7 linked regions of the Homo sapiens genome follow. The protein of the gene in region 2 purifies or fractionates together with the protein of the main gene of each other region. This does not show direct contact. Each region holds a gene or a part of one and is shown on either strand. Other genes may lie near its edges. The genes, in order: POTEI, MME, RGPD6, PAM16, MTHFD1, SLC67A1 and LEMD2.

Region 1 (3,500 bases), on a different chromosome or scaffold from region 2:
CAGTCAAGAATAACACTGAGGTTTTTGGCAGAGCAACTGGAAGAGTTGCTGTTAACCAAAGTAGGAAAGACTACATGAGGTGTAGATTTCAGGAAGGACATCAGTAGCCCAATTTTGGATCTGACAAGTGTGTGATACCCAACAGCTAATCAAATAGAGATGTCAAGTAGGTGGGATGATATAGAGATCTGGAATTAAGGAAAGAGATCTAAGTTGGAGACATACATTTGGAAATCACTAGCATATACACAGTAGAAAAAGTCATGAGGGGCCAGGCACGGTGGCTCACGCCTGTAATCCCAACATGTCATGAGGCCAAGGCGGGCAGATCACCTGATGTCAGGAGTTTGAGACCAGCCTGGCCAACATGGGGAAACCTGTCTCTACTAAAAATACAAAAATTAGCCAGGCGTGGTGTCGCACACCTGTAATCCCAGCTACTCAGGAGGCTGAGGCAGGAGAAGTGCTGGAACTCATGAGGCAGAGGTTGCAATGAGCCAAGATCATGCCACTGAACTCCAGCCTGGGGGACAAAGCGAGACTCTGTCTTAAAAAAAAAAAAAAAAAAAAAAAAAAAACCATGAGAAAGAAGATTGAGGACTGAGCCATGAGAAACAACAATGTCCAAAAGGAGAAAGATGAGGAGCAGCAAGCAAAACAGACCATGATAAACGGACTAGAAAGGCAGGAGGAAAAGCCTGAGGGAGTGAGGTCCTGAAAGCCAAGTGAAGACGCCATTAGGGAGGAGATGCCCTCCATTGGCTCAAATATTGCTGACAGATTAAATGAGGTGTAAGAAAAATGCCTAGATTTAGTACAGAAAAAAATTAGTGATAATCTTGAGGAAAAACAACTCTGGAGGAGTGCTGAAATTGAAGACTTACCGGCATTGAGATCAAGAGTGAATGGAAAGAAAATTTGAGTTCATGAGTGTAGACAGTTCTTTAAGGACAACATACTTAACGCTCATGACTGAGAATGATGTAATTTTCATCCACAGTCATGGAAAAGTGATAGACAAGAAATAGTAGCTTCCAAATTTTACATAACAGGTGGAGTTTTCAAATTTTATGTAACAATTATATATTCTAAAGGTTATAAAAATTATACACATATGGCATTTAGAAATGTCAGACCAAGGTTTTTAAAGGCCCTTTGAACATTTCTAGATTACATAAGCTGATTATCATTTTGTTCATGCTTATACATAAAGACCAAGAAATACTAAAACTCTCAAGGAGAATATTTCTTGCTTGATAAAAATCAGCCAATTCTAGGACAGTTGACACTCATCAAATATACAAAGTAATTGATCACAGTAAAATACTGAGTTCTATTAACAGGAATAAAGTGGGAGAAATGCAGAAAATAATCTTATTTTATAAATGTAGTTTTCAAAATCATATGAAGTCACTGGAAAAATACGGTGAGGTGAATACTGAAATATATCCTTTTCTCAAAGGGAGGATAATGTCACACATGCAGGGCACTTTTACAAATAAAAGTCACTGCATTAGCAGCACCTTCCTTTTAGCACAAGGGTCAGCAAATAAGCACCTGTGGGCCAAATCCAGCCCACTGCCCGTTTTTGTAAGTCAAGTATCTTGGAACACAGCCATGCTTATTCACTTTACAGTCCATAGTGTCAGTTAGCTGGGTGTGATGTTGCACACCTGTGGTCTCAGCTAGTAGAGACTGAGGTCAGAGGATCACTAGAGCCCAGAAAGTCGAGGCTGCAGTGAGCCATGATCACACAACTGCACTCCAGCCTGGGAAACAGAGTGAGACCCTGTCTCAAGAAAATCAATATATGTAGTCCACAAAGCCTAAAATATTTACTAACTAGCTCTTTGCAGAAAAAGCTGGCCAACTCCTGGTTTAGTAGATCAAAGATTCTTTGATGTATTTTAATAAAAGTTTTACCAAATATACTGAAATGTTTATATTAAATATAGATCCCCATGTACAATCCCTTGGCAATATTCAGATTGAGGGTCCAATATTTCAGCACTCAGGCACTGACAACAAAAATTTAGTAACTAGCAATCTTGTTGCTAACAAGGTACAGTGTCAATGTAGCATGTAGCTTCCATTTGCAACACAGCAGATATTACAAGAATTTTAACAAGAACTCTTAAGATGTGTCATCAAACTAAACGCTTTAAATACATTTTAATTGTGAAATAATCAGTATACCCTACATCTAACCTCATTTTTTAAAAATGGTTGCATAATACATTATTTTGGGGATATGGAAATTGAGCTATTTCCTATTGATAAGCAATTAGACTAGTTCCAAATTTTTTACATAATAATACTATAATAAATGTCCTTATACATAAGTATACATATAACATATCTATACAAATATCCTTTACATGTATTATATATGCTTACTCTGTTATATATGTGTGTGTGAATATGCTACTCAATTAATGTTCAAAATGTATTTACCAACAGTATATGAAATGTCTTTTTCAATGAAACCATTTCCCCTGCAGCAACACGGATGGAGCTGGAGGCCATTATCCTAAGAAAACTCATGCAGGAACAGAAAATCAAATGCCACATATTCTTACTCATTAGTGGGAACTAAACATGAGAACTCATGGACACAAAGAGGAGAATAACATACACTGGGGCCTACTTGAGGGAGGAGCATGGCAGGAGGGAGACGACCAAAAAACTACCTTTCGAGTATTTTGTTTATTATGTGGCTGGTGAAATAATCTGTACCCCAAGCCTCCATGATACAGTTTACCTATATAATAAACCTGCACACGTACCCGAAGCTAAAATAAAAGTTCACTGAAAAGAGAAGAAAATGCCTTTTCCCTCACATTTGCCAATACTGGTTATTTTTCAAATAAATTAATGACTGGAAAAAAAACGGTAACTGATTGTTTGCTGATTTTCATTTTTCTGATTAACAGGCAAGGCTCAATATCCTAATAAAAGTATAAAATTTGTTCATCATGAATATTAGCTCAAATTAGGATTAGTTTGACAGCACAAAGTTACCTCCTGTTCAATGTTGCCATAGGCTTACCTGTGATACTCTTCATTCTCAGTGTCAGGAAATTGCTGGCTTTCAGGTGTTCTGCTCTTCCTTGGAGGAATTAATCCATCATCACCATTGCCAGCAGTGGCACCATTAGTCAGGTTTTCTGGGAATCCGACGTGAGTACTTCCGTGCTTCTTCATTTCTTCGATAGCCATAAAATTTTCTAGCTGGAAAATACAGAGAATAAGAAATTATCTACTTTAGGCACATTATCTACTGATAATCAGACTAAAACCAAGAAAGATAAAATAATTGGTCTAAAGCTCCTAAAGTGGCATTACCTAGCATTTTATGGCACCATTCGGGATTATTCCATAATAATGAAAGAATAGCTCTAGGGTTTGCACCTCTTCAAAATTCAATGTACAGAATTCTGAGTTAACTATTTAATTTTTCACTGATGATTTATGCTACTTACATGATAGGATCATGTATG
Region 2 (3,500 bases):
CCTGGGCTCAAGCAATCTGCCTGCCTCGGCCTCCCAAAGTGCTGGGATTACACCAGGGAGCCACTGCACCTGGCCTATTTATCACTACTTCTAAAGTTCATTTTTAATTATTTTAAAATGGTTTATTTTACTTATTTTATTATTTCATTATCACTTGTTTACTACTTGTTATTTCTATTTTTATTTTATTTCTCTCTTGATTTTCTCAATGATACTTGACTTTTGATTTTACCACTTCGTATCACTCTTAAATAATTTAATTAATTTAAATTTTTCATGGGGGGTTTAGCCTGTATCTCTGAGTTACATGGTTTCCCATCAAATGGATGCAGTTTTATTACAAATCTGTCACATGAGCCCAGGATTTCCCCAGTCAGTGGATCAGGCCTCATATGTATCACTGAAGTCACTGAGGCCAAACCCATTTTCTTGTAGGTTTGCCATCAGTCATGACAATCCAGCCCCCACTTAATGATACTTTATTTACTGTAAGACATTTCCTTAAAGAGTGTTCTAAAGGATACAAATTCTACAGAAAGTATAAGGTAGTAAACACACAAAAAAATTATTGTGAATTACTTCGGGTAAATGCTGTCGCAAAAACATTAAGCAAGTTTCTTTATTGCAGGACTTCTTACAATTAAAAATGGGTTAGATTATAAGGTTAGAATCATAAGTTATTATAAATATCCAGGATGGGAAATTAATTTATCAATTTACTCACTCAATATATTTCAAGGGTCTACCAAGGGCCAGGTATGTTATAAAGGGCTGAGGATATAATGCTAGGCAGTATTTTCTGCCCCCCTGCCCCCAACCATAAAGAGCTTATTGTAAACAGCAATGATAAGCAGTGAAATAAATATTAACTCCCACGTATGATAATAAAATCACACCCTAGGAGCATGTAACCCAGCCTAGGGTGAGATGAGGGAAGCCTTCCTACAAGAAGTGTTCACCAAACTCTTTTGACCATGAGCCTCTTGTGGAATAACTTGCATGTCCAGTATTTTGTGACACCACTTTGGAAATGCCGATCCAGAACAATCCAACTGGCTTTACCAAGCAGAGCCATGTCATGCACAGCTGTGACATGAAAGGAGCAAATCCAACCTGAATGTCTGAAGAGCTGGCCAGAGTGATGGAAAGATAGCAATACTGGGGGCAGAGGTTCTAGGCCTAACCCACTCAGGGCTCTTTGAGAGCTGAAAAAAGATAGTCCTTCCATGTGATTTAATTCTAAAAGAAAACTAGACCAAGGTTGATTATCTTATTAAAATACATTTATTATTGTCTCCTCTATCAATCCAAATCGTCTGCTTTTTCTGCCAACCTAACTACAGAGATTAGTCAGGATGCATGTGAATGTTGCTCATAAAGCATGTTAACAGTTTTCACAGGACATGTTCCCCCTAGTTATTATATAATTATAAAGACAAATGATCACAGTAAATTTAAACCTAAGATTTCCTGAGAAATCTTAGACCTATTCTTATGAAACTCAGTAAAAGTCTCAATAAAAGCTGCACATTATGGGTGGGCATGAATAGTTATAAAAAAGCTTCTTCAACATCTCTTTAATTATAGATCTTATAATGCACCAATAGTGCACCACCTTACATTTGCTTGAACAGAAACTTAATATTTTCACCTTGCTAGAGTATTGGTTGCAGAGATAAAAGATTAAAATTGTAGAAATATATCTTTATCCACAAAAACTCTTTCTGGAAACACTACATATTGAAGGAGCTTACAAGTTTTTATGCAATCTTTGATTATATTTTTTTCTAAATGTTTTTAAAGTTAATTTTTCCTATACTAGCAAAGATTTTTCTTTGCTAGTTAGCTGTCTGCTCTTTACCTTTTCTTCAGCTCTCTTTTTTGTCTCGGCATCCATCCAAGTGAGGTCATCTAAAGTCTGAATAAAAACTTCTCGGATCTGTGCAATCAAATCCTCGACCTCAAATCAGAACAGAAGACAAATATAGGTCATTAATTCATTCTTTGTAACACAGATTTTTAAAAATAGAGCTACATGCTATCTTTGTATGACTTAATATGTTAATAAACGTAAATTTATAGACAAACTGTGACCTAAGCTAACAGATATATGGGACCATTATATTTTAAAAGCAATATTGCTATTATCGACACTCTTGATTAAATAGGTCTTAATATATGCATTAAGGTAAAAATCATTTTCAGAATATAATGGTTTCACTATCATACTGGAAGAACTAATGTAAAATATTAGGGCTGTCATTACCATTAGTGGTTTAGCTAAGCATAAAGTAGCATTTCAATAAATTCTTTCACCATACCATTAAGTTCCACTGTCTTCATTTTCCTAACAATGAAAAATAAAGCACATTTCTTATACTCCAAATAAATCCTGTTTTACTTTCTATGTTTTTAAGAAAATACTAATTTGGGGGCAATTTTGATAATAGAAGAGTTTATAAATGACTATATCAATAGAACATGTTACTGGGTACTCCAAATACACTGCTTCTGGAAAATGGTGAGTTGGTTTCAGACTAGACAGTATTAGGAGCAGAAACATAACTAGACTCTTGGGGAAGGCAAGGGAAGATTTATTGGGAAACAATGGCATATTATGATTCAGAGGTTCTCTGCCTAAATTAATAAAATTTTAGCCAAATGATGGAGAACTGTAATTGCTCATCAGTGTGAACAAACTGATAGTGTCCTGTATAACTGACAGTGTATTATTCTGAAAACATTACCACATGTTTACTCTCTCCAGCAAATGCTGCTTCCACATAAAGCCTCCCCACAGCATTTTCCATATTCCCATTGACATAGTTTGCACAACGTCTCCAAGTTGCTGTTTCTGAGGTTGTACCATAAAGGGCCTACGGAAAAGAAAAAGGAAATGGCATTTGACCAGAAGGAAAGGTCTGGAGCATGTTAAGAGCACACATTTCACAAATGTCTCATCTAAGTTCTTGAAATATTCATCACTTCTCCTCACAAGGCCCATGTTCCTAGCCTATGATGAAATGTAATCCAAATGGATTGTTTACTTATATATGATCTGAAAACTAGGCATATTTTCAGTAGATGCCCCAGTAGAACTTTTTGCTATTACAACTTAATATCATTGTAGAAAGCGTTAGAAAAACATACAACACTGTAACCACTGCACAAACATAAATGTGAAGTCATATTCAATAAATGTAATGGGGGAAATATGGTATATGAGAAAACACATTACTGCTTTTCAAGGTTTTAGCTGAACTCTGAGTACTTACAGAACCTGTATGTGTATAAATTTAAGAATAACAGGATAACCTAAGTAAGGGAGATTTAGCACAATACATTTTTGCATTCTTTAATTTTAAAAAGATGTCTACATTTTCTTTTTAAGGATAAAAACTAGAAATTTTAATCAGTCCACGTTATTTTCTTTCCAAGACTCCAACTAACATGTTTGCTGGAGTCTCTCCTTCCTCAATCCCTACTGCCTACTCCCCTCA
Region 3 (3,500 bases), on a different chromosome or scaffold from region 2:
TAGATAAAACATAGGTCTTCATTGAGCAGACCTGAAATAGCAGAGCAATGAAGTACATTACAAATCAGCATCCCACTACATTTTAAAAAACAAACCAACAAGGGTGTCATGCCACCAGTCAAAAGGTACTTTGCTTAAACTGGCATTCTTTAACATGCATGTTGTAGTGGTAAGTACTTCATTTCATACAGCCACAGTAATTAATACTTTGCTAAGGGCTACCCAGCTGCTAAAAACTGCTGTTATCTCATACTGAGAATGCTAGTTCTATACCTTTGCTCTCAGGCTGTGAGGAAGGGGTGCTAGTCCAAAAGGCCATGGGATTAGATTTAAAAAGGCTAAAATTAAATCCTAGAAAATAAAGAATATTTCATTTTTTAACATTTTAGGAAACAAAATGAATATGCTTTTAAAACATAAAAAGCCAGAATCCCTCAATTTATACCACCAATCTGACTGTCTTACATATTCATTTATCCCTGTAGTTTCATTCTTTGCTCATTTAATACATGAGCAAGACTGACATACAACACATAAAATGAGAACATCTCAATATCATGTTTTTTTTTGTTTTTTGTTTTTTGTTTTTTTTGGAGACAAAGTCTCACTCAGTCACTCAGTCAGGCTGGAGTGCAGTGGCATGATTTCAGCTCACTGCTACCTCCATCTCCTGTGCTCAAGCGATCCTCCTGCCTCAACCTCCTGAGTAGCTGCTAATTATAGGCACGCACCACCATGCCCGGCTCATTTTTGTATTTTCAGTAGAAACAGGGTTTCACCATGTTGGCCAGGCTGGTCTCGAACTCCTGAGCTCAAGTGATCTGCCCACCTCAACCTCCCAAAGTGCTGGCATTCTAGGAGTGAGCCACCGTGCCCAGCCTCAATATCATGTTTTCTGAGTGACAAAAGAAACAGAACAAATGAAAATGAACACTTTAAAAAAAGACTCACGTTAATGCGCATGATTCAAGCATGAGTCCGTACACTGTACCAAGTTCTTTTGCTCTGCCCTAGCATGATAGAAGTATCTTCCAGTTACTGAAATGTCTTTAACTAAGTTCTCTTGCTCTTTGAAACCTCACCGTGAACTTATTAAGGGAGAAAAAAAATTGCTCAAATATTTTGGGGGTGTTCACAAAGCATCGTTTATATCCCAACATTAGTATCCCACAAAGAGTCTGCATCAAGCTAAACATTAAAAGAAAGAAAAATTGTGCTTAACTTTAACAACAAAGTACCTACCCTTTTCTGGTGTTTTAAATGTGTAGTTGATTGAAGATTCTTCCGTTGGAAAGGAAGCAGAGAGATTTTTGACTTTGCTATCTGAAGACTGTTCGATATCAGAGTTCTTTGACAGTTCACATTTTTTAGGTTCCACTTTGCTTTCAGATCCACTCTGGGCTACTGAACTAGTTTCACTATTGTTACTTTTCAAAGGTGCATTAAAACTAAATCCAAACAAAGACCCAGTGGCAGAACTGTTGCCAAATACAAATGGTTTTGATTTTTCACTACTAAAAATTCTTTTAACAGACTCTGAAACAAATACAAACTTTGGAGGAGAAACCACTGCTTTTGTTGTTGTTTCAGATGTGCTAGACACTTCAACTTCTGAAGCTGCATCTGCTACATCATCACCCTGAATAACATCTGTCCTCTCTCTTGTGGTTTCTTCTAATATAGCTACAGCAATTTTGCCACATGGTGACTCTCTGGGAGTGCTTGACCGAGAAACATGAGGTGTTATCAAAGAATCTTTTTCCTGGGCTGTTTTTGCTTCATCAAAAATTTTCTTAAACGAGTCTGCAACATCCTGTAGTTTAAAACGAACAGCTAAATGCTCTACTTTTCTTTCTCCATCTGCAAAATCACATGCAGTCCACACCCATACTCTTTCTGTCCCTTTCATATTTTGCAAACTCATGTCTGGAGTTATTCTGTGATTGGCACAAAGTTTTAATACTTGGTCCCTTCTCATCACTATACGAACTTGCTTATTATCATAATTCTGTAAAATCTTTATATCACCAATGCCCCTTTCTTTCCATTGACCAACATCTTTATCATATCTGTAGATTTCTGCCCTGTGACTAAAAACAACTTGTTCATTTTCCTCACCACTGGATACTTCAACTAGATCAGGTAAAGGAACAACAGGTTCAAAGTACTGTCCATCTCTCTCTTCTTCTTGAGTAACAACAGATTCTTCATCAGTGCCAACTGAAGTCCCACTCTGATTCAACTTGGCAGGAGACTTAGATAGACTCAAAGCAGATTTAAAACTGAAGTTAGATCCTGTTGTTGACTCATCAAAGCGGAAAAGATTTTTTCTCACAGGGCTACTTGCCAATGGAGAAGCATGTACTGAGCTACTACTGACACTATCATCCAAAGCATCTTCCCTTAAGTCATAGTTATCCCATTCTAATGTGGGCCCAGTGTTTTCAGCATTGGGTTTTATTGTTGTGTCTGAGGCACCGGCCGCACCTGTACCTGAACCCTTATTTTCTTCCTCAGTGACTTTTGTTTGATCATTTGTCAAAAATGTTTTGAAATCTTTCAGTCCACTCTTCATTTCTTCAGCTCTCTGTATTAACTTGGCAGCTCTGCCAGTATCTACAAGTTTATGGGGAGTTTGAAGTGGTATGTCTAACAGAAGCCGCTGGCATTCCTCAAATTTCTGCTTGAATTCTTCAGCCAGCTCTGGTGTTTTAAATTTTGCTGCCAACCGCTCTAGTTTGGCATCACCGTCAGAGAAATCACTGGCTGACCACATCCATGCTCTATCTGATCCAGAGAGGGGCTTCAGGTTCATTGTAGTCGTTATCCAATGATTAGCACACACTTTTAGTACTTGTTCTCTTCGCATCAGCATTCTTAGTTTGCCATTGACCTCGTTTTTGAGAATTTTTAAGTTCCCCAAGCCCCTTTCTTTCCACTGCCTTACCTCAGCATCAAATCTAAATAGTTTTACCCCCTGTGAATACAGAACTTTTTCACCTTCTTCTCCTGTTACAAGTTCTACTTTTTCAGGCATTTGAACTACTGGTTCAAAATGGATGTCATCGCTGTCCTCAGTCTTATAGGCATCATCATCTTTCTCAAAGTCACCGGAAGTGTTTGCTTTATTGGCCATTTTACCGTATCGTGATGAGAATAATTTTTCTCCAGCACCTGAAAATCCCTTGAAATTGAGGTCTTTTTTGCCAAACTGAAATCCTTCTCCTGAAGTTGATTTTGCAACATCTGCAAATGTAAAAGTGCTACTTGTTTGGCCAAAAATCACACCACGGCCCTTCTTCCGGCCACTAATATCCTGAGCCTGGAAGCCAGTATCATTTTCAAGAGGCTTTTCCCTTTTCTTTTCTTGATTTCCTGGTTCCGAAATGCCAAATTTAAATCCATCAGCAGACACAGGGATGGAAAATCCTTCTTTGGTTGACTTAAATTCTGTATTAGAAGAACCCTGAAACATAAATGAAGGTGAATTTTCTTGATCC
Region 4 (3,500 bases), on a different chromosome or scaffold from region 2:
AGAGGAGGGGGTTCTGTGAGAGGAGGGGGTTCCGTGAGAGGAGGGGGTTCCTCCTGGGCTGGGCTTTGCAGGGTAGGAAGAATCATGATGGAAATACTAGGGCTTTCTAGGCAGAGGGACTGGGTTGAGCCAAAACTGGCAGGAGAGAAGGCAGAAGGGAGTTCCTGCGAGCAGCCAATAGCCTAGGCTGGCCTGGGAAAGACTGGGAATCTGGCGGATGACATGGAAAGATGCACAGATCTTTGTGAAACAAAGCGATTATATATAGACAGCACATACAAAGGATCTTGTGACTGCAAAGCCGTAGACGCAGGGGGGTGGCGCGGGCTGGAGGCAGCTCGGCATAGGTTGAAAGCTCATGTGGCACAGCCGAGTGACTTTCCCTTTCTTCCTAGTGCTTTTCTGTAGATTTGCCTTCAGTCAACAAGTATCAACTGAGTCCACACACCAGGCACGGTGCCAAACACGTTCAATTCATTGTGCCGTTTAATTCTGACAACTCAGGGGTGGGGGACTGCTGACTGGCCCGAGGACGTAACAGCAGGTGCCTCGGAGGCAGATCGGAAACCCAAGGCTGGTGCTATCTGTCACAGCAGTCACTACGCAGGGTCCCGGGGTCTGAAGGTAGGGCACCTGGGCAAGCCGACAAGTATCAAGAACCCAACCCCGAGGCCAGAGGGGCTTGCTCCAGATTCCAGTGGATTCGACTCCAGAGCTGGCCTTGTTCAGCCTCCGAGGACCTGCTCTTTCCTTAACAGGTGGGATGTCATTATGGGCCATTAGGGGAATGAACAAACAAGTGGGTTAAGATTTCAAAAGTAGGTGGAAACTTCATAACTTCTGGATTTCACAGCAGAAAGAGCCCAGAGAAGACCCTCCTGTGATCACAGCGAGGGGCAGGGCTGTGGCTGTACTGCAGATGAGGGAGGGTCAGGGATGCACCTGATGACACCTGCGGTCTCACCTGACTTCGCCTCCTTCCTAAAGCCCCTCCCGAGTGGAACAGGAGGCTCAGGGATGGGATGCTGGTGCTGTCTGAAGGACAGAGGTGAAAGTCAGAGGGTCCCCTCGGCTTGAAACACGGCTCAGGTCTCAGACTACCCCTCACACCAACAGCCTTCGGTCCCTCTGCTGCCATCGTACAGCCTTGCAATCACTTGTTTACTTTTCTGCCAAGGCCAATGACTGTTGCAAAATAATGAACGGTAAGAGCTGAGGTCATAACTGGGGAGCTTCCCCGACCATCCCCTGCACACTTCAAACCAAAGCGGCGTGGTGGCCTGTGGCTTCAGCTGCCTAGAGCTGCAGGGCAGAGGGGGGCTGGCCTGCAAAGTTTCAGCAGACTGGACGGCCCATTGAGGCCAGCAAGGTTCCTATAGGAGGCATCTCTGAGAAGACGCAGTGTAGTGTAATGGTTACACCTGCAGGCTTTGGGATCACCTGTGTGCAAAAATCCCAGCTATCTGACATAGACACGTTCTCAACTCCTTTGAGCAACCCAGTTTGCTTACCTGTAAAATGTGGCCACCAATAAAGCTGAGATAATGCCTGTCAAATGCCTGGCACACAGCCTAATGGTACAGCAGGTGCTCAATAAACATTGGTTTTCATTCATTACTACTGTTTCACAAAATCTGACAATGACCAGGCACTATGAAGTAACAAAGCTTCTTTCAAAATAGCAGCTCATTTGATACAGGCCCTTTGCTTCCTCAGGGGTGAAGGCTGCAAAACACCATACTACATTCCCTCAGGGAGCTGGGAAGCAGCAAGGAAGCAGAACGAGAACCACGTTGACCTGGGACCAGAACCCTAGCTTTCTTTCTCAATAGCTGTGTGACCCTGGACAAATTACTCAACCTCTCTGAATCTTTTTTTGTTTTGGTTTGGGTCTTTTATTTTTTATTTATTTTTTTGAGACTGACTCTCGCTCTGTCACCCAGGCTAGAGTGCAGTGGTTCAATCTCGGCTCATTGCAACCTCCACCTCACCAGTTCAAACGATCCTCCTGCCTCACCCTCCCAAGTAACTGGGATTACAGGTGAACACAACCAAGCCTAGCTAATTTTGTATTTTTAATAGAGACGAGGTTTCACCATGTTGGTCAGGCTGGTCTCAAACTCCTGACCTCAGGTGATCCACCCGCCTCGGCCTCCCAAAGTGCTGGGATTACAGGCATGAGACACCACACCTGGCCTTTTTTTTGGAAGCAGAGTCTAACTCTGTCGTCCAGGCTGGAGTGCAGTGGTGCAATCATGGCTCACTTGCAGCCTCAGCCTCCCAGCCTCAAGAGATTCTCCTGCTTAAGCCTCCCGAGTAGCTGGAGCTACTTGTACTCAGCCTCCGAGGACCTGCTCTTTCCTTAACAGGCGGGATGTGATATGGGCCATTAGGGGAATGAACAAACACAAGTGGGTTAGGATTTCACAAGTAGGTGGAAATTTCATAACTTCTGGAGGCTGAGCACACGCCACCACATTTGGCTAAATGTACTTTTCTGGAGAGATGGGGTTTCGCCATGTTGCCCAGGCTGGTCTTGAACTCCTAGGTTCGCATGAACTGCCCTCCTCGGCTTCCCAAAGTGCTAGGATTACAGGTGTGAGCTACTGTGCCCAGCCTACCTCAGTTTTCTTAACTGCAAGATGGAGAGAATAACACCCTCCTCACAAGAGGACAGTAAGGCCCTCAGGAGGCAATGCCCATTAACACCACATGGACAAACAGCGGCAGGTCCAGAACTAGGCGGTGCAGGCAAGCCCCTCATCCACCTATCCAGTACCCCAACATCCCCTGAGCTTCTGCCATGGGTCAGGCTGAGTTCAGAGCTCATTCACAGGGAGCAGAGCTCTGCCAGCTGTGGCTACCATGGGTGACCAAAACAACCACTGCCTGAGGCCCCTCCCAGAGGCTCCAAACATCCCATAGTCCACCGACTGACACTTGGGCCTGAGGGTCCCAGGTGAGAGGACCCAGCTGACTTGGCATCCAACTTCAGGCCACGCGGCTGTCAGAGAGCAGCAGTCAGAAGCACAGGATCCAATCCTGGCATGCGTGGGGGCAGCATGTGCACTTCGTTGTTGGGCAGCAACCTGGCCCAAGGCAGGACCAGATCCCAGCAGCTGGGACCACAGACAGTGCTGTGGGAGGCACTCAGCAATGGGGCTTACACTGACTTGTGTCTTTGAGATTCGCGTGCAATGCGCCTTTGAGGCCAAGCCCCAGGCTCTGGGTAGATAAGCAGACAGCCTGAGACTCACTCTCAAGGACACTCTGGTCACCCAGGGCCCCTGAGAATAGATACGGGCATCACAACTAGACAGGAGAAAGGTCAGGACCACAACTGTAGCACGTGCCACAACATCAGGGACCTGGCCAGTGGCTGGCGCAGTAAGTGCCCCTGGTGCATCTGAATGAATATGGCTGTTGCAGCTTTGCCCAATCTGCTGTCTCATGAACTCCATGTCCCCAGGCAGGGTTTCCAAGCGCCTCCTAACCCTTCT
Region 5 (3,500 bases), on a different chromosome or scaffold from region 2:
ATGTGGTCAGTGGAAAAAGTGACCACTACTCAGCCTAAGCATATGACCTCAGTAATGAGCAAACCTTTTGGTTATCTACCCCCAGCCCTAGAATTTCTCTTTCTTTGGGAAATCACATGTACAAAAATCAACTAAAGATCCAGCTGAGCCCTGACTCTTCTACATTTAATTTGGGGACCCTAATAATAGAGGCCAGTCCAGAAGCAGCTACACTGGATAGGTTGAGACTGGATTGCATTAGGGTGGGGAATCTGTTCCCACTTTTTAACCCTTCCAAATAAAACACTATTGATCTGGCCCTTCTCAATTTATCTTTAGTAAGCCAAGCAGGAAGAGCACTTTTATGTGTTTCTCTGGCCAATACTTTCTGCCCTGCACTTGAATCTTTAAAAATATTACTTCTTTGTAAAAGGTATACACACCTTGATTCATTCTTAATTTGGCAAGTGACTTACAATGTTATCCCTGAGTGGACCATGCAAACTATTTAAATAATCAAAATATGAACCAAGAAGTAGCTCGGTGGTAGAAAAGTTTGCTTCTAAAGTGAACATTTGCAAATATCAGTCTTTAGGTCCTGCAGCCCATTTGCTGGTCTGTAACTGAGTGATTCTGCCATCCTTTGGGGAACACAATAACATCCAGCTGTATCAGCATTAATTTGCCTATATGCCCAAGATCAGTAAAAACACTGTTGACCAGAAGGGAAGATACTGCTTTGATTTTATTCATATTTTATTGTCTACATAAGGAATCAATGTGAAAAGGATGGCAAGTTTCATGTTTAAGTCAACATTTCCTACCTATCTGCAACACTCAAGATCCCCACTCAGGTTTTTCTTCTCCATTTCTCACATGTAATCCAAAAAAAAAATGCCAAAAGCAGAAATATGATACAGAAGATGCGAGGTTTTAAAAAGACTGAGCTTGCTGGGTGCGGTGGCTCACGCCTGTAATCCCAGCACTTTGGGAGGCAAAGGTGGGCGGATCACGAGGTCAGGAGATCGAGACCATCCTGGCTAACATGGTGAAACCCCGTCTCTACTAAAAATACAAAAAAAATTAGCCGGGCGTGGTGGCGGGCGCCTGTAGTCCCAGCTACTCGGGAGGCGGAGGCGGGAGAATGGCATGAACCCGCAAGGCGGAGCTTGCAGTGAGCCGAGATCGCGCCACAGCACTCCAGCCTGGGCAACAGAGCGAGACTCCGTCTCAAGAAAAAAAAAAAAAATTAAAAAAATAAATAAATAAAAAGACTGAGCTTGAATGTCATATCGCAAGTATTCAAAGTGAGGAGTTGTAGGAGAGCAATTTCTTTATCGCCTGTTAGATAATTACACTACAAGAAAATGAGTGATCAATTATGAGCTACTGTCTTAAAAGCACGGTAGGGAGAGTGGGAGGGAGGTTAAAAACGGTGAAGGCTTGACAGTGACTAATGTTCCTGGCAGCTCAGCGTCTACATCTGAAACTTGAGATGGGAAGGGAGAAAAAAGACTTCCAGCTATAACTCCCTTCGACAATTCAATAGATATGAGTGCCAGTGGTCAGATGGCAGGAAGCTGGATGTGGCGCCACAGTGACCACTGCCCTTGAGGAGCTATCTAGGCAGGAGAGCACAGGACGCCGTACATGAGACACATGCAACAAAAGATACAATACACATGTTCTATGGGAGAGGAGGGAGGGAGAGAAGGAAAGATCATCCCTTGATAAGGGGAAATCAAACAAGGTTTGGAAGGAATAACAGACATGACAGAGAGGAGATGGGGAGGAAGCAGCTGAAGGTGAAGGTGAAGTTGAACCTTATTCAGTTGTGTAGCCCAAGGCCTGGCATTGTGCTGGATACACAGTAGTTGCTCCGTTAAAGATTGTTCCTTTCTTGGATCTATGAGGACGTACGCAAGTTTTGCCCTATTGTTCTGTGAAGTTTTCTGTTTGAAAGAGTAGCCCACTCCACTAAGAATGCAGGTGAGGGAACTACAAAGGGCAAACGAGGCATGCGCAGGGAAGGGAAAGTGGTCCACTTTACAAGTTGAAGACAGGTATTCACCATGCGCAAGTGAGATCACAGGCTGCAGAGGTCACTGAAATTAGTGTGAGGCTAAGGAGTCTGGCAAGTAAGAAGGAAGAGGCTCAGAGTTCCATGCCAGAAGGTGAACGTGGCAAGGCGAGAGCACGGGGATAGATCTGAGTGGGAAGCAGCTGGAGGGAGGGACACCTGCAAGGAAGTTATCACAGCCCATCAGCTGAGAAGGTAACACTCAGTGGTGACACTCAGAACAGAGGAGAGAGAAAACAATTCCTAATATTTAGAGACTGGTCCAATATAGGGAATGCTTGGGAGGGAAACTAAAAGGCTTCAGACTTGCGGGAAGGAAGAATGGTGATACTAACCAAAAGACGGGAGTAAGGGGTAACTTGGGGATGAGGATGCCGAGTACAGTTTTGGACATGATTAAAAGGCTAGATTTATCCTCTCAGCCTAGAAAAAAACCCAGGTCAAATATCTTCTTTGTAAAGCCCTCCTCTTGGCAGAATGAGTCCCTCTTCTGGACTCTCATAGCACTTTGCAATAATTATACTGTATTTTAAATCCATCCATCAACTTTGCTAAAATAAAGGGTGATCTCTACATGAAGATAAAGTGATATATCCCTCCTGCCCTCCCTCTCACTTTCTCCCTGGACAAAGTCATCTTGGAAGCTGTACAGCACATGATGAAAATCAAAGGCTCTGGCACCAGGCAGACCTGCCTGCAAGTGGCAACTCTTCTATCTACTAACTCTGTGCACCCTTGGGCTAGTCAGTCTCCTAAACCTTAGTACTACAAGCATAAAATGAGACAAGCTTCTCTCTCAGGCTTCTTTTGATGACCTAGATACCATCCTCAATACCAGCAGCCACCTTACTCCTCCAACAACACTCACCTGGGACATAATTGATTCCACAGTCGATGACTATTGCCCCAGGTTTGATCCACTCCCCTTTAACCATTTCAGGCTGACCAGTTGCAACCACCAGGATGTCACCTTTATTTACCTAGGGGTAGGGGATTTGGACATCAGAAATGAAATAATGAAATACACACCAAAAAAAAACCCAGAAATGAAAAGGATATCCCTGAGCTTTGTATTAAATTCTTAAGTGTCATAAGCTATTTCATAAGATATTGGGTTAAGGCCTCAAATGTAAGCCACACACTGTTTCTGACAGCCCTTCACATGCCGTGCTCATTTCTACACATGCCAAAGAGCTCCCTTTCACCAGCCATTTTACCCAATAGGGAAATCAGTGTCAACCTGCAAGGCAGAGGGGCAAACAGGCTTGGGGCCCTGCGTGTTATGTCCAGACACTGCTCCTTCTCCTACAGAATGTAGAGCACTACTTTGGGAGGATTAAAAGAGAAAGTACTAGGCCTCTCTCCTGCTCTCTCCCCACATTTAAGAGACTGCACTGTCAACAGGCACGTGTGTGTGTGTGCGCATTCTTGGGCTCAGGAA
Region 6 (3,500 bases), on a different chromosome or scaffold from region 2:
CCTCGGGGGCTCACCGAAGGCAGTGGGGCCAGGTGCCAGCCAGGCTCCAAAGCCTGGTGCCCCATGGCAAGGGCCAGCCCCCTGGCCCTCTTGGTCCAGCTGCCCCAACGCCTGCAGCCTGTTCTGGCTCCTGGCCTGGTGCGGGGCAGGAGTCTGGTGCAGCTGTGAACATCCCCCGCCTTGCAGCCTTCCTGCCCTTCCTTGATGGAAACCGAGGCACAACATGTGTGGGCTTTCCCTCCCTGCCCACCCACCTGTGTATCCCATTCCTCTGGAAGGCCCCAGTCCTGCCTCATCCGCACCCACCTGGGCAGCAGGTGGGAGGAGGAAGTGGACTTGGCACCCACAGGCTGCGGGGGCGGGCACTGGTATAACTGGTTTGGGCCCAGCCTCCAGAGCCCAGGGCTGAGAGGCCAGGCTGGCCTGAGGAGGGACCCGGGACCTGAGTCACTGCACACACGCTGGGTGGGGGGTGGCTCTGTGACTCATGTTCTGAGCCCAGCCCCTCACAGACTGGGGAGGGATGGGGAGGGGCCATAGAGTCCTATCCTGAGCCAGACAGCAGGGAGCCCTGCAGGGTTTGCCTTCCCCAGGTGGACAGGCAGCCACCAGGGCCATGCCGGTGCCATGGGGGTGCCAGGGCCCTGTGGGCAGGACACCCCTGCCCAGCCAAGAAAAAACAAGGAGCCAGGGGCACTGGAGCTCAGAGAGGGAGGAGGGGATGGGAGGGGAGGTGAGCAGTGTCCCATACGACCCAGGGCACCCCAAGCGCTGAGCGGAGGCTGAGGAGTGCAGGGGTGTTTGTAACAGGGCACCTGCTGTACAGGGAAGAGGCTCTCGGGGGCAGATAGATGCAGGGCAGGGGCTGGCAGGCAGCTGAGGGAGCAGCAGGATATGGGCGACCCAGGCCCGCCGCCCCCCCAGCCAGGTGACTCAGCTACTGCCTTAGTTCGTGTACCTCGCAGTGCCCAGGACACTCCGGTTCTTTCTGTTCTTCCCACAGTGGGCAGGCAGCAGGCCCCGCTGAGATGGTTCTGGCCCCGCTGTCCCTCAGGACAGCCCTGTTGAGCAGCAGGCTGGACAGGCCTCCTGCTGGGCCCGTGAGTCACTCCAGTCTCAGAGCCCATTTGGGGCAGGAGGGAGCTTGTGGTTTGGTTGGAGGGCTATGTGTTTGGGGAATGGGGGGACCAGGTACGAGGAGACACGAGGACTGGGAAGGGTCAGGCCAGAGGGGCCTTTAGGACCTTCTGGGGCACGCTGGAAGCCAGACGGCAGCTGCGTTAGGAGTGGCATGGCAAGATGTTCATTTTCAAACATGGTTCTAACTGCAGCATCCTGGAGCACGGATGACTTCTCTCAGCCCTGGGCTGGACATCCAGGGACGCTCTGGACAGCCCCCTGCCCCATCGTCTTGTGAGCTAGGTGTCCCACAAAGCCAGGTCCCAGCTGACCTAGCCTCAGCCCCACCTGTGGGTTCGCTCCTGGCAGCAGGATGACCTGGGCACATGCTGTCACCTTGTGCGTCCCCTTTCAGAGCCTCAGAGTAAGGTGAGGCTTGATGAGGGCTTGTCACCGTAGAACACACAGAAGCCCAGACTTCAGCAGAGGTTCCTGGAGACGCGATTGAAAGCCAACTCCACGCCCTGCTATCTGGGCAGCCTCAGGTGTGGGCTGCGGTTGGTGGGCAGGATGCAGGTGGGCTGCGCCCTGCAGGTCCAGAGGGGCCCCAGAACAGTGGAGTTAGGGGCAGCCGGCAGCTGTGAACCCAGCCCTCATTTGCATATAAGGAAATGAGGTCACCTAGCAGGTAAGCGGCAGAGAAGGGACAGAGGCTGTGGGTCCCCTGAGTCCTGTCCAGTGTCCTTTCAACAGCATCCAGACAGACACTCCTGTAATCCATTCAACTGAAAGAGCAGGAGGAGACAAAGACAAATTAACCTGTCCCCACCTTCCTGGTCGTGGCTCCACTGATAAAAGTGTTGGATGAGCCCCGGGAAGCCAGCGTGCCCCTGCGTCTGGCAGGTCGTGGTGAGGTTGAGGGGGGCTGAGCAGGAGGGGCTGACGGCACCGTGCTAAGGGTGCTTCCAGTCAATGGTCCCGGGGGATGCCCAGGCTGTCCGGCGTGCAGAGGCCCCAGGGCTGGGGCCAGCGTGCTGGATTTCCTTCCCACTCCCGTTTCCCTCCTGGCAGTTCATTTTTGGGGAGCAGGAGAGCTGTGACTGGGGAAGGACAGCCTGCGTCTCCCCCAGCAGCCACCCACGGCCCCTGGCACAGTGGTGGGACCTGACTCCCTACCTCCTGGGGCCCTCCAGGGTCCCCCAGCCCCAGGCTTTCCTGTTGCCCACAGCAGCACAGGCCTTTGGTTTACCCACCACCGCTCGAGGGCCTGGCTTCCTGCCACCATGCCTTGCTTGTCACCAGCCTCCTAAAATAGCCATCGAAGTGGTGCGTCTGCTCCTGTGTACTTCTGGGACATCTGGCAAATAAGGCAGGTTTTGCCCCTGCCCAGCCAGACCCTGAGCTGTGACACGCAGGCCTCTGAGGCCAGGGTCCCAAAGAAAGGGCCCGTCTCTCTGGGGCTGGCCACAGGGGCCAGTTGTCCCTCCTGCGCCATACATCTGTGCCTGCTGGCTGGAGGGACAAGCTGTGGCGCCCGAGCCCAGCCGTTCCCCTTCCCTGGCATTTTCCCAAAGGAAGGGCCCATTCGTGCGGAACCCCAGCAGCCAGAAAACCTGAGTAGCTGACGTCCTGGGCGGTGGGTGCTGCAGGAGTCGGAGCTGCCCTGATGGATTGGCGGGGGCAGCAGCACAGGTGGGGTGGATATGCCAGCACCCCCCTAGACTGATGTGAGCTTAGGGGTCCCACCTCAGAAATGAGGGGTGGCCAATGCCCAGACTCTCTGGACTCAGAGGTGGCCCCACTGACTGTCCTAGTCAGTGTGGCTCCAAGTCCCCTCCTTGCTCTGGCAAACGGATGCAGGTAAGTGTGTGTACAAGTTTGCCCGTGTGTGTGTGTGTGTGCGCATGTGGCTGCGGTGAAGAGGGGCGAGGAAAGTCCTTTCTTTGAACTCCTTGGTGGGGACATGGTGGCCTGTGGCTGGCCTTGTTTTTGGGTGCAAGGGCATCTTCCAGGACCCTGACCCCTACTGGGTGCCTGTGCCCTGAGGCCCTGGCCAGGGCAGATTTGGAGGATCTGTTGAGGTTGGGGCAGAACTTGTGCTGCGTGTGTGAATGGCTCACACATTTGTCCGATCATCTAATGATCACTGCGGTCTCCGCGCAGGGTCCAACCCTGGACCACCTGCCCTCAGGGGCCAGATTCTAGCCAGCTGGTAAAGCGAGTCCTTCTCAGATGGCATGCTGTCTGGGAAGGAGGGCTGGGGCCTCACCAAGAAGGGCCCTTGCAGGCTGTATAGGAGTTTGCTCAGCTGCTGAGAGGAAGGCCGTGGCGGTCCGGCACAGGCCTGGAGGCCTTACAGACGAGCTCAGTAGGAAGCCCCA
Region 7 (3,500 bases), on a different chromosome or scaffold from region 2:
CGGCTCTATTTTTCTGATTCCTCTTGGGTTGCAGATAGGGATGATGTTGACAGTAGAGCCTGGTGGCGGGAGCACGGAAATGCCACTAGCCATGGGACTCTTGAGCACATTCCTCTACTTCCCTGTGCCTCAGTTCCCTTATAGGTAAAATGGGGCCACTTCTGTTGTGTGCGTGAACCATGGTGAGGACCAAGTGAGTGAGTTTGCATCTGTGGAGAGCTCCAAGTAGTGCCCGGCTCCCAGGGAGCACTCAGCAAGGGTGAGCTCTCAGCATCACCCAGCAGATGACAGCATCTGGCCAGAAACCACAGCAAGTGTCTGCTAGGGAGGGACCACAACCAGAGCCAACACTGGGGGGGGCCCTGCTGGCTGTCTCCTGGGACTCTGCCCTCCCCCACCCTGGTTCTGTCAGGACCCCAGTGTACAACTCCAGCAGTCACAGCCCATGTGGAAGGTGCCCTGCAGCTGCACATGACAGTGGCCCTGCCACCCCTTCCCATGAAGCTATGTGCCCTGGAAGCTGACCCCATTCATGTTGTGAAACTTTGCTTTCAATTACATGTATATGCATGAGTGTACGCATGCGTGTGTGGGAACTGGACCATGATGTTGCAGGTAACAGGTGTTTTTGACTGCAGGTCATGGTTTAAAAAGTTTGAAAAACAATTTCCTCCTCCTTGCCAGTGACTGATTCATAAACAGACATGTAAGAGATTCTGGTCAATAAAGCCTCAAGGAGTGTGTCACTGGAGGCTACTGGGAACATGTTCTCTTGCTTATAAGACAACAATAGGCCTACTTTTCCCCTGCTGGCTGTGACAAGGCAGACAGTGCCCCAGCTGCTGTTGGCCACCATCTGCAACCATGAGGGACCCCAGTCTGTTGATAACATCCATGGAGGAGTGTGGGACCACGAGAATCACAAGAGCAATGGAACCGGAGACCTGACTGTTCTGTGCCTGGAGCCCATGCAGCTCTGAACTTCCACTTACAGAGACTGAGGAGATCCTTCACTACTTGTGCCCTGGGGGAGGGAGCTGCTATTACTTGGAGCCCAAGGCCTCCTAACTGGTATCACCACTGCCAGTGTTCTCTCTACAGAGGTGTGGGATTGTGCTTTCATATGTCTTTTCTAGCTCATCCTGCCATAAAGAGCCGAGCATGCTGGGGAGCAGCAGGAGTGGGAGCAGAGCCACTCTTGGCCCTGGGGTCTGCACTGCCCTCAGCTGACATCTGATGCAAGGCTCTGGGTTTCCTTCTGGGGAGCTCAGTGGGGTCGGACCCCATCTTACCTCACACCCAGCGCCCCAGCCAGGGACTCACCGGCTCTGTGGAGGGATCAAGCTGTCGCGCACGTGCAGGATGCCTACATATGGATAGCGCTCCATGTCCTGCTCCCAGTCCACGTAATGGTCCTGGACCACGTCTGCAGGAGAGAGCACACCATTTAGGGCAAGGACCCTCTGGCTGGCGTCGGCAACCCTTTATTCACCAGGGGGCCACGCACCTATAATCTTCTTCACCATCTCATACATGGCTTGTTCCTCCTCTTCTAACTTTCGCCACCGATATTTTAGGAGAATTAGGAGCCCCCACAAAAAAGCCAAGCCTGTGAGGGAACAAAACACTGTTAATCCCTCACACTTCATTTGGCAGTGGGTCTCACCATGGACAAGATGCTGTGATGGATGCTGTGGGGGATCCACCACATGGGTTTGGGTACCTACTATGTGTCAGGCTCAGGGCCAGCATGCGAGAAACAAAAGATACAGAAATGCAGAGGGACGACAGATTATTAAGTGATCATCTTCCTCCCACCGGCTGTCACCACAGCGGCATCCCCAGCCGTCCAGATCTCGGCTCCTCCCAACCTCATTCTGGGGCTTTCATCTCCTCCCTTGTGAACCAGAACACAGTGTTTCATACATATATACATGCCGGGGCCCTTTGTATTCCGAGATGCTGCTGCCGATAATGATTTCTGTGCCTGATGGCACAGGGGAGGGAGCTGTGTGCACACTGAGGCGGTCTGTGATTTGTAGCTCCAACTATCTCTGGAAAGCCGTGGTTTCTGTGACTTGGCCTTTCGCCTTCAGAGACGCCCTGAGGTCTCTGCTCAAAGGCGGCCCCCGATGTCAGGGGATAAGACTGGTGCCCTCCTTTCAGTGCAGCACCCTGAGTCCTTCTTGCTTTCATCAGGTATCTGTAGCTCTCCAGGAGATGTTTATATTTTTCAGGGAGTAAAAGTAGGCCAAGCCCCTGCTGTGCCTCCTGCTCGAAGCTGGTCCACACTGGGATCCCTGCAGAGCCCAGAAGGGGTGGGGCCCAGCTCCTGCTCAGGCCAGGCTCCCGCTCAGGAAATCTGACAGTCCCCTGCCCTGAATCAAGGACATTTTCTAGTTATCCTCACGGATTCCTGCCACCAATCTCCAAAGGTAAATACAACCCAGGGCAGAGGCTGACTTGTTCATCTCCTCTGTTTTATGAGACAGACCTCAGGTTCACTAGACAGAAATGAACCCTCCGGGCCTGGAATTTCTATAGCTCATCATTCATGCCTAGGAGTATGCTTGACTGCACAGAAGGGGAGGGAAGGCGGCCGAGGACTTACACCAGAAGAAGATGAGCACGTTGGTGACAGCAGTGAGCAAGGCCCGGCTCAGGCGGCAGCCAACACCCATGCGGGGGTGGGCAGATTCCAGGCAGACCACCTTGTCCACAGTCGTCACCAATTCAGACTGGTCTTCTCCTTTCAACCTGAAACAGGACACAGGGCTCTGAACATGTTGGAAAGCTCCAAGGAGAGGCAGTGCAAGCCCCACTTCAAACAGGAGGAAGCGAAGGAAAGTGGGGACGCAAGGCCTCTACTTGCTTATAGAATAGGCTTGGTATCCTGGCTGCATTCTTTCCAGAAATTTCCCACATTGGCTACTTAGAATGAATAAAGCTTTAAAGACGGCAGCAGGCTTGAACCCCTACCGCTAAAGCAACGTCCCCCTGTCAGGTCTTTGACAGCCTCTCTCAGCATGCAGGAGATTAAACTGTAAATTGGATTCCCACCTCCCAGCATAGAGAAATGGAAATGTTTACTGAATCACTAGCTTTGCAATTGCATGGCAAGAACTGAAAGACAGAATCTGGGAGGTTGCACTTTTCCTCGGTGACAAGGAGGCACATAAGCTGTTTAAGTGTAAAGATCATGGGGCATCCATGAGGCTCATGGGGAATCCGTGAGGCTCATGGGGAATGAAAACCACCAGGCTCTCCGAGGCCAGACCCCAGCCACGGCGCCTCCACCATGGTCTCTGGCCAGGAGGTGTCAGGACCTGCAGAGGTGGGGACACCAGAGCCTTCTTCCAGCTAGGTGACCCAGGGCGAGAATATCATGCTCTTGAGGCTGCATGCTGGAATGGCTGGCATCCCAAGTGTCCTGATTTCTCAGGACCCACTTTCAATATGGTCATCCTGAGCGGCTCTGCCACCCTCCAGGCTGCCTTCCC

Evidence for each region.
Region 1: the proteins of MME (region 2) and POTEI purify together in Homo sapiens (affinity purification with mass spectrometry, with the first as the bait; one large-scale study listed by BioGRID). This does not show direct contact.
Region 3: the proteins of MME (region 2) and RGPD6 purify together in Homo sapiens (affinity purification with mass spectrometry, with the first as the bait; one large-scale study listed by BioGRID). This does not show direct contact.
Region 4: the proteins of MME (region 2) and PAM16 purify together in Homo sapiens (affinity purification with mass spectrometry; one large-scale study listed by BioGRID and IntAct). This does not show direct contact.
Region 5: the proteins of MME (region 2) and MTHFD1 purify together in Homo sapiens (affinity purification with mass spectrometry; one large-scale study listed by BioGRID and IntAct). This does not show direct contact.
Region 6: the proteins of MME (region 2) and SLC67A1 purify together in Homo sapiens (affinity purification with mass spectrometry; one large-scale study listed by BioGRID and IntAct). This does not show direct contact.
Region 7: the proteins of MME (region 2) and LEMD2 purify together in Homo sapiens (affinity purification with mass spectrometry; one large-scale study listed by BioGRID and IntAct). This does not show direct contact.

What each region holds. Positions count from the first base shown.
Region 1 is NC_000002.12:130,471,329-130,474,828, forward strand, and holds part of POTEI (POTE ankyrin domain family member I), read right to left. Parts: intron 3,232-3,500; coding exon 3,050-3,231; intron 1-3,049.
Region 2 is NC_000003.12:155,142,819-155,146,318, reverse strand, and holds part of MME (neprilysin), read right to left. Parts: intron 2,877-3,500; coding exon 2,748-2,876; intron 1,961-2,747; coding exon 1,862-1,960; intron 1-1,861. UniProt on the Homo sapiens protein: Thermolysin-like specificity, but is almost confined on acting on polypeptides of up to 30 amino acids. Biologically important in the destruction of opioid peptides such as Met- and Leu-enkephalins by cleavage of a Gly-Phe bond.
Region 3 is NC_000002.12:110,532,223-110,535,722, forward strand, and holds part of RGPD6 (RANBP2-like and GRIP domain-containing protein 5/6), read right to left. Parts: intron 3,467-3,500; coding exon 1,243-3,466; intron 352-1,242; coding exon of another isoform or gene 248-351; exon of another isoform or gene 1-247.
Region 4 is NC_000016.10:4,344,822-4,348,321, forward strand, and holds part of PAM16 (mitochondrial import inner membrane translocase subunit TIM16), read right to left. Parts: intron 1-3,500. UniProt on the Homo sapiens protein: Regulates ATP-dependent protein translocation into the mitochondrial matrix. Inhibits DNAJC19 stimulation of HSPA9/Mortalin ATPase activity.
Region 5 is NC_000014.9:64,419,353-64,422,852, reverse strand, and holds part of MTHFD1 (C-1-tetrahydrofolate synthase, cytoplasmic), read right to left. Parts: intron 3,040-3,500; coding exon 2,928-3,039; intron 1-2,927. UniProt on the Homo sapiens protein: Trifunctional enzyme that catalyzes the interconversion of three forms of one-carbon-substituted tetrahydrofolate: (6R)-5,10-methylene-5,6,7,8-tetrahydrofolate, 5,10-methenyltetrahydrofolate and (6S)-10-formyltetrahydrofolate.
Region 6 is NC_000011.10:2,912,278-2,915,777, forward strand, and holds part of SLC67A1 (solute carrier family 67 member A1), read left to right. Parts: intron 1-2,511; exon of another isoform or gene 2,512-2,872; coding exon of another isoform or gene 2,873-2,979; exon of another isoform or gene 2,980-3,500. UniProt on the Homo sapiens protein: May act as a transporter of organic cations based on a proton efflux antiport mechanism. May play a role in the transport of chloroquine and quinidine-related compounds in kidney. Plays a role in the regulation of lipid metabolism.
Region 7 is NC_000006.12:33,775,631-33,779,130, forward strand, and holds part of LEMD2 (LEM domain-containing protein 2), read right to left. Parts: intron 2,758-3,500; coding exon 2,612-2,757; intron 1,610-2,611; coding exon 1,508-1,609; intron 1,427-1,507; coding exon 1,324-1,426; intron 1-1,323. UniProt on the Homo sapiens protein: Nuclear lamina-associated inner nuclear membrane protein that is involved in nuclear structure organization, maintenance of nuclear envelope (NE) integrity and NE reformation after mitosis.